2 linked regions of the Homo sapiens genome follow. The protein of the gene in region 2 purifies or fractionates together with the protein of the main gene of each other region. This does not show direct contact. Each region holds a gene or a part of one and is shown on either strand. Other genes may lie near its edges.

Evidence for each region.
Region 1: the proteins of NPHP1 (region 2) and TTC3 purify together in Homo sapiens (affinity purification with mass spectrometry; one large-scale study listed by BioGRID and IntAct). This does not show direct contact.

What each region holds. Positions count from the first base shown.
Region 1 is NC_000021.9:37,149,431-37,153,253, reverse strand, and holds part of TTC3 (E3 ubiquitin-protein ligase TTC3), read right to left. Parts: intron 3,177-3,823; coding exon 3,084-3,176; intron 2,435-3,083; coding exon 2,370-2,434; intron 1,362-2,369; coding exon 1,225-1,361; intron 304-1,224; coding exon 1-303. UniProt on the Homo sapiens protein: E3 ubiquitin-protein ligase which catalyzes the formation of 'Lys-48'-polyubiquitin chains. Mediates the ubiquitination and subsequent degradation of phosphorylated Akt (AKT1, AKT2 and AKT3) in the nucleus.
Region 2 is NC_000002.12:110,163,340-110,167,162, forward strand, and holds part of NPHP1 (nephrocystin-1), read right to left. Parts: intron 1,817-3,823; coding exon 1,713-1,816; intron 1,392-1,712; coding exon 1,349-1,391; coding exon of another isoform or gene 1,181-1,348; intron 1-1,180. UniProt on the Homo sapiens protein: Together with BCAR1 it may play a role in the control of epithelial cell polarity. Involved in the organization of apical junctions in kidney cells together with NPHP4 and RPGRIP1L/NPHP8. Does not seem to be strictly required for ciliogenesis.

The sequences.
Region 1 (3,823 bases), on a different chromosome or scaffold from region 2:
AGGCGGCTAATTTGGGCTCCACTTCTTTAAGCTCACTCAAAACATGCAGAAATATTCTTGTCTTTACTCTGTTATTTTCTTGAATCAAGTGGCGAATAACATAGTCCACTGCTTCATTTAGAAAATTTCTGCTAGAAAAACAGGTTGTATAGTCTTCTGTGCTCAAAACTTTCCAAGAAAGCAATTCTTTGAGAAGCATGGCTGTATTCTGTATGCCGGATTTAATCTTGTCAGCATACTGCTTTATACACTGTAGAATTCTGTCATCAAGGAACTGACAACGCTGAACATTGTCTACAGTTTCTAAGGATAAATAACAATGGTTAAAGTGATAAATAGGACTAATTCACAATTACATAAACTTAGAAATAACAAAATTACATAATATAAAATATGATTCAGATTGATTATACTGTTTTACTAAACTCAAGAAACTTTAATTAGAAATATAAACACTTAACAATACTTTTGAAAAGACATGAAAGTGTACGCTAAAATAAACATACCAAAAGTAAGCATTTTACACCCTTCATTCTGAACCATTCATGTAGTAGCATTTGAAACTTAGTTCCTCTAGGCCAGGCGTGGTGGCTCATGCCTGTAATCCCAGCACTTTGGGAGGCCGAGGAGGGTGGATCAGGAGATCGAGACCATCCTGGCTAACACGGTGAAACCCCATCTCTACTAAAAATACAAAAAATTAGCTGGGCATGGTGGCGGGCACCTGTAGTTCCAGCTACTGGGGAGGCTGAGGCAGGAGAATGGCGTGAACCCGGGAGGCGGAGCTTGCAGTGAGCCGAGATCGCGCCACTGCACTCCAGCCTGGGCAACAGAGTGAGACTCCGTCTCAAAAAAAAAAAACAAAAAAAAAAAACAACTTAGTTCCCCTAAAATACGGCCACTTCCTTCAACAATCCTAACCCAGCCTCATCAACTACCTTAACTTTATATACAATAAATATGTTTAGTCATTAAGCACAGAAAGTTAAAATACAATCTCTGAAAGGTTTTTCAGTGGGAATACAATCTCTGAAAGGTTTTTCAGTGTTCTTTACACCAACCCAATTCTGTCTTCGAGTAACAGAAGACAGTGATAGTATTAAATTACTAAGTGAAATCTTTATTTCAATTCAATAATGATGAATATAAGGCCCAAAAGATGCTTACATTTATACATTTAAATGAGAGTATATTATTCTTATCATGCCTTTGGCTTCTGCATACCTTTCTGCTCTTCATTTTTGGGTGGATTACTTTCTCTTAAGTCCTCCTCCATTCTTTCTTGTGCTAACTTTTTTGCTTCTTTTTTTTGGATCTTTCTCTTCAATTTTTTGTCTTCTTTCAGTCTTAGTTTCTCTAGGCTGATAAACATTTACAATTAGTGACAACTCAATGAACTGTTTTCCTTTGACTATCGTAGAAACCATCTTCCAAGCAATATATTAGAAGTTTTCCTTTTTTAATCAGAGCCCGGCCTACATCTTCCATTCAATGTAAGAAACTGTCAGTATTGTCAAAATAAGGGTACTTGTTTCATGAAAACAAAAACCTCAATGATTAGGTGATGTCTAAGGATGCAGTCTACAGATTGTATAGATGTCACTTTCATGTATCTAAGTTACTTCATAGGGTAAACAGAAATAGTACAAATTACTCTGCAAAATAATTCATGTAAACTCTCATTTCTAAGAAAGGTCCCATAGTAAAATATAATTTTCACATCTCAATAATAACCCACAACACTATAATTTGGTTGATCTGGTTACAATGAATTCTCTCCAACAAATAATTCTGTTCATCTTTTCTTTTGCTTTTTCTTGGTCACAAATGATAAAAAAAAATCACTTCTTAGAAAGAAAAACAAGAAGCAGGACCAAAAAGAAAAGAAAAAAGAATCTGAATTATTTGATCTAAACAAAAAGCTATAGAGAAGTAATAATTTAGACAGTACATTGAGTATTTCAGGGTAAAAAATAGTCATAGGTTCAAAATGTTTACTGAAGAGAGATAAAAAGAAAAATATGCTTTTGGAATTAAAGTTTCAACAACTGAGAGCAAACTGTATAGTTTTTATATAAATGCCAAATCTATTAATCAAACATGTAATTTCACAGCATCAAATGTTATAATTTTAATTGTAAATTCAACCACTAGATAAATAATTCTGAATCAAGTTTTTAGTATTTAATCATTCTAGGCTAGTTCTCTTTAAGTTTTAATTTTCCATAAAAATCATTTTAAAAAACACTTATTTGAATATATGTATACACAGCCAATTTTTAAAAAGGCATAATTTAGAAATCTGCATTTAATAGAATTATATTCTAAGAGACATCATCAAACCACTGATTGATTGTTAAAAATCTTACCTAGAACATTTCTGTTTCAGAATAGGTCTTGGAGGAACCTTTTCTTTTATGACCTTGTGTTCAAACTTTAAATAAAACAAAGACATCCAAAATTTGTCTCATACTCCCATGACATAAAACACAAAACCACAAGTAACAAGTATTTCAGAAGCACACATAATGTTCAGTTTGATAGAGAACAGTGATGATGTTCTGACCCAGACAAAAGCCCAGAAAGCTTTAGCAAAATAATTTACTGAAGAGGAACAAGAGGGTAGACACACTTGAGGAAAAAGTTTTTAAAAAATTAAGAGTAAGCAGACGATCTAATAAAGTGTAAATATTATTACAACTACCCACTCTTGCCATTCCCATGTCATGAAGTTAAAGGTAATCCCTCAAGACGCTCTTCCCCCTCCCTAAAAACCTGCACACCCACTACTGCCCAAAAGTTTACCGGGATTAAGAAAATGAAGTTATCAAAAACAGTAAAAATAGTAAAACTAAGATATAAAAAGCCTCCTTTTCCTATTAAGAAATAAAAGAATATAAGAATGCTTTCATTACAATGAAGCATTCTCACATCCCAGTATTTCCTATATTTTCTTAAATGAAGTAATTGTTTCTTTCCTGGAAAAGATCCAAATTACATGATATCTACAAATTCAAATCATGTTTCAAAAGGTGTAAACATTTTGGTTATCTATCTAACAAGGTTTCCCCTTTATTACTTACTTCACATTTAACTTCACCACCACTGCTGAAGATGATAATCTTAGAAATGACACCTTCACAGTCAGGGGTAAGACATATTCCTTGTAGAAAATCCTATTTGATTAAAAAAAAAAAAAACAAGAAAAATGTTATGTCTAGGGGGGATAAATCTATACACGTATACTATTTTTACCACTAGGAACAGTCAAAATACGGACTAAAACCATCTTCAGGCAAGTGGTGAAAATCCTTACTCACTGCCATGCGAATTTTAAGGCTTCCGTGTAGGAAAAATATACTTTCAGGTGTGGGTCTGACCATGTGACTTGTTTTCATCAATGCAAAGTGACCAGACATGACATACACATGTCTAGACAAAAGGTTTAACAAACACTTCATAGACTGGACATTGTTCTTTTTCCTCTGACACAGGAAGATGTTCCAGAAAAGGGTCATTCTTCAACTTAGATTGAGAAACAAGGAATAGAGCCACACAAAATAAAGCTGCTACAGCCCAGTCCCAGCCAACAACTGCAGAACTGCAGGACAAGTCATGTAAGCAAAAAACAAACTTCTCTGATGTATGCCACAAGATATTTGGGTTGCATCACTTCAGCATATCCTAGGGAAAGCTGACTAATTTACAGAGTGTATTTAAAATGATGGGAATAGTTAAGACCACTAAAAGAGGGTATATCACTAGAGAAACTCAATTTAGGTAAGACAAAGACATAGCAGAAGTGACTCAAAGGTGACAGTTA
Region 2 (3,823 bases):
AGTGCCCAGCGTGCAGAGCTGTGTGTTCCGGAGCAGCTGCTTCAAGTATACCCTTATCAAAATGTCCCTGCTCCTGTCCTGCTCCACCCTGCGCTTCCATTTCACAGGTAAGTTAATGTCTATTGGCAAATCACATGCACTGAAGAATTAATGGATTTTTTTTGTATACACATACACACTACTCATAGACACACACCCTCACACATACAAGGATGTACTTATAAGTAATAAATAACGAAAAAGGTCAGGAAGGACACGTACTAAATTGTTAATGGTGATTACTTATGAGTTTGAGGAAGAGAATTTTCATTTGGCTATGTAATTATTTTTTTGTTTTTTGAGACGGAGTCTCACTCTGTCGCCCAGGCTGGAGTACAGTGGAGTATTCTCGGCTCACTGCAACCTCCGCCTCCCAGGTTCAAGCAATTCTCCTGCCTCAGCCTCCCCAGGAGCTGGGACTACAGACATGCGCTACCACGCCCAGCTAATTTTTCTATTTTTAGTCGAGGTGAGGTTTCGCTGTGTTGACTAGGCTGGTCTTGAACTCTTGACCCCAGGTGATCCACCCGCCTTGGCCTCCCAAAGTGCTGGGATTACAGGTGTGAGCCACTGTGCCCATGAGCCACTGTGCCCGGCCTGTAATTTTTTTTTAATGACAGAATTATGGATCATTTCTCCTTTAAAAAAATGTAATTAATTACTTTTTTTTTTTTAAGACAGGGTCTTGCCCTGTCACTCATGCTCTGGAGTGCAGTGGCACAATCACAGCTCACTACAGCCTTGACTTCCCAAACTCATGCAATCCTCCCACCTCAGCCTCCCGAGTAGCTGGGACTACAGGCATGAGCCACCACACCTGGCTAATTTTTCTTATTTTTTGTAGGATAGGGTCTCACTATGTTGCTCAAGCTGGTCTTGAATTCCTGGCCTCAAGTGATCCTCCTGCTTCAGCTTCCCAAAATGTTGGGATTACCAGTGTGAATCACCATGCCTGGCCAATTTCTTACTTTTTATTAAAGGCTTTCAGGATTTTTCGAATAGTAAATAAAATTTAACATCTGTTTCCACTCAAATGATAGGAAAGCAGGATCAATGAGAATGTTTCCAAGTCCTCAAGTGACACCATGAATTATCTATTCTTTTTGTACAAAAAAAAAAAAAAACTAATGAGAAATGTTACTTGGAGCACAGGCTTAGAAACCAGAAATATACGTCCTCTGCTCTGTACATTCCATGCCCTGAACCCTGTTTCAGATCCATTGGTGTCTTCCACAGTCTCCATCCTATTTCGCATCAGAACTATTAGGTAGCAAAACGAGACATGATTAACAAGACAGAAGATGCCCGCCTCTGAAATCGCTTTCTGAACAGCACTCCAGTGGGGATCAGTTCTGGGGAGACAAAATAGCAAAGTGAGTCAGGTCAGGTTATGCCTATTCACTCAATTAGGGAACTTCTTTAATCACAGTTGATAATCATCAGTAAGTTTTGAAAATCTAACAGTTTCCAGATGAAAACGAGGTAGAGCTAAATGTATTAAAAATAATTACAAAACTAAAACAGTAATGATCTTTAAGCAGACAATAGTATGAAAAGCTCTCCAGGTACAAGTTGTCTCCATTTCAAGAAAGTATTGAATTAGTTATAATAATAAAAATAAACAAATAAAATGTTTCCTAAACCTACTTTGATATCCTTTCCCACTTTTGTACCTTTGCTTAACTTCTGCTCCATCTGCTGTTTCATCCACCGCCTCTACATCTTCTTCACTGCCCTCTTCACTTGACTCTTGGCCTTCTTCTTCTTCACTATAAGGCTAAAAAACCATTGAAATGTGAAGTGCTTTTTAACTAATGCAAAAAACAACCAATAAAAATACCAGTACTGCCACCTAACCCTCCAGTAAAAACAAAAACAAGCTTTTCTGTTTAAAAACAAAAAAACAAAAGCATCAGTACTTTCAGAAAATCTTGAGCATAGATGGGAATTTAGTATATATGATGAGCATATAAAACTCAGTGGGAAATAAATTTTCAACACATGGTTAATAACTTTGCTATTTGAAAAAATAAGAACTGAGATAGACAGCAAGTTTAATCAAAATAAATTCCAGATGGAATTTACTTAAATAAAAAAGAAAAGACGTAAAGATAAAAATAAAAGAAACATAAAAGCATTAGAAGAAAATAATCTAGAGATGGGGAAGCCCTTTCCAATCATGATACAAAATCAAAAATCATAAGTGGAAACACTGACAGATTTAGCTACATAATAAATAAACATGACCTAAAGTCAACAAAGAAAATATCTAACACATAACTTAAGCATATCCTGAGGGGAAAAAAAGAAAATAGCTCACACAAATATCTAAGGATTAATATCCTGATTATTAAAATATTATAAAAGCTCTTAGAAATCAATGAAAGAGTTTTTTAAATCCCTTAGAAAAAAATATCCAAAAGAACTGAAAAGGTACCAACACATAAAAATGATAAGCACTCAAGGTGATGGAAATCTCAAATACCCTGACTTGATTATTACACAATCCATACAAGTAAAAAGCACTCACACAAATACATAAAATATTATGTATCAATAAAGAAAACCGAAAGTGCCATTCGCAAAGAAGATATACAAATGGTCATAAAGCATATGAGATGATGCTTAACCTCATTAGGAGTACAGTAAATGCACATTAAACCACTAATGACACTTTTTTTGCTGGTCATATTGGCAAAAATTTTAAAGATTGCTAACAGCCATCACTGGCAATTGTGTGAGGAAACAGCACTCACTGATTGTTAGAGGTGGGAGTACAAATTGGCATAACTTTTCTAAAAGGCAAATTGGAAAAATAAATCAAAATATAAAGCTATAAACCCTTTGAACCAGTGATGAACATCTAGGAATTTATCTAAGGGGATAATCGGGCAAGTGTGCAAAGATGCACGCAGGCTTGATGACAACACAAGTTGCTGGCTGGCTACCACCTATTCCCCACCTCCTTTTTCAAACAAAATCCCTGATTTAACAATGATCCAGTTAAAAGACTACATTTCCCAAGACTTCCTTGCAGCTAACTGTTGCCAGAGAACTAAATGCTGGTCAATGAGCAACAGTTGAAAGTTTTTTTGTGTAACTTCCAAGAAACCTTCTTAAAAAGGCAGCAGCTTATGCCTTTTGAATTCTTTCCCCTTTTGCTCCTTGGAATCCTTAAAAGATCCAGCAGCTGACTTAAAACTAAAGAGATAACTCTAGGCAGAGCAGCCTCACATCAGAAACAGGATAAAATACTGGATAGGATCTTAACCAATTATTGATTGCTTTTCTCCACACTTTTATGCTTGAGAGAAATAGGCTTCTACCTTATTTAAGCTACTTTTTGGGGGGATCTTTTTGCAACTGACAGTGGATGCTAATCCCATGTTCTTTGCAACATAATCGATAGTGATTATAGGTTGGAAACAACTTCAATGACCATCTAAATGAGATTAGAAGACTTGCTGCCATTGAAAAAGATGATCTAGACCTGCCCTATGTAATACAATAGCCCTTTGGCCACATGTAGCTAGTGAGCTCTTGAAATTAATCCAAACTGAGAAGTGCTGTAAATGTAAAACACACATTGGATTTTGAACTTAATGTTAAAAAAGCAAAACAACTCAATATTTTTAAATATTGATATGTCAAAATAGTATTTTTGATATACTGGATAATATAAAATATATTATTAAAAATAATTCTACCTGTTTCTTTTTACTTTTTAAAAATGTGTGTAATGAAAAACATGTATTTGTTCTTTGTCACTGATTCCTGGCACAGA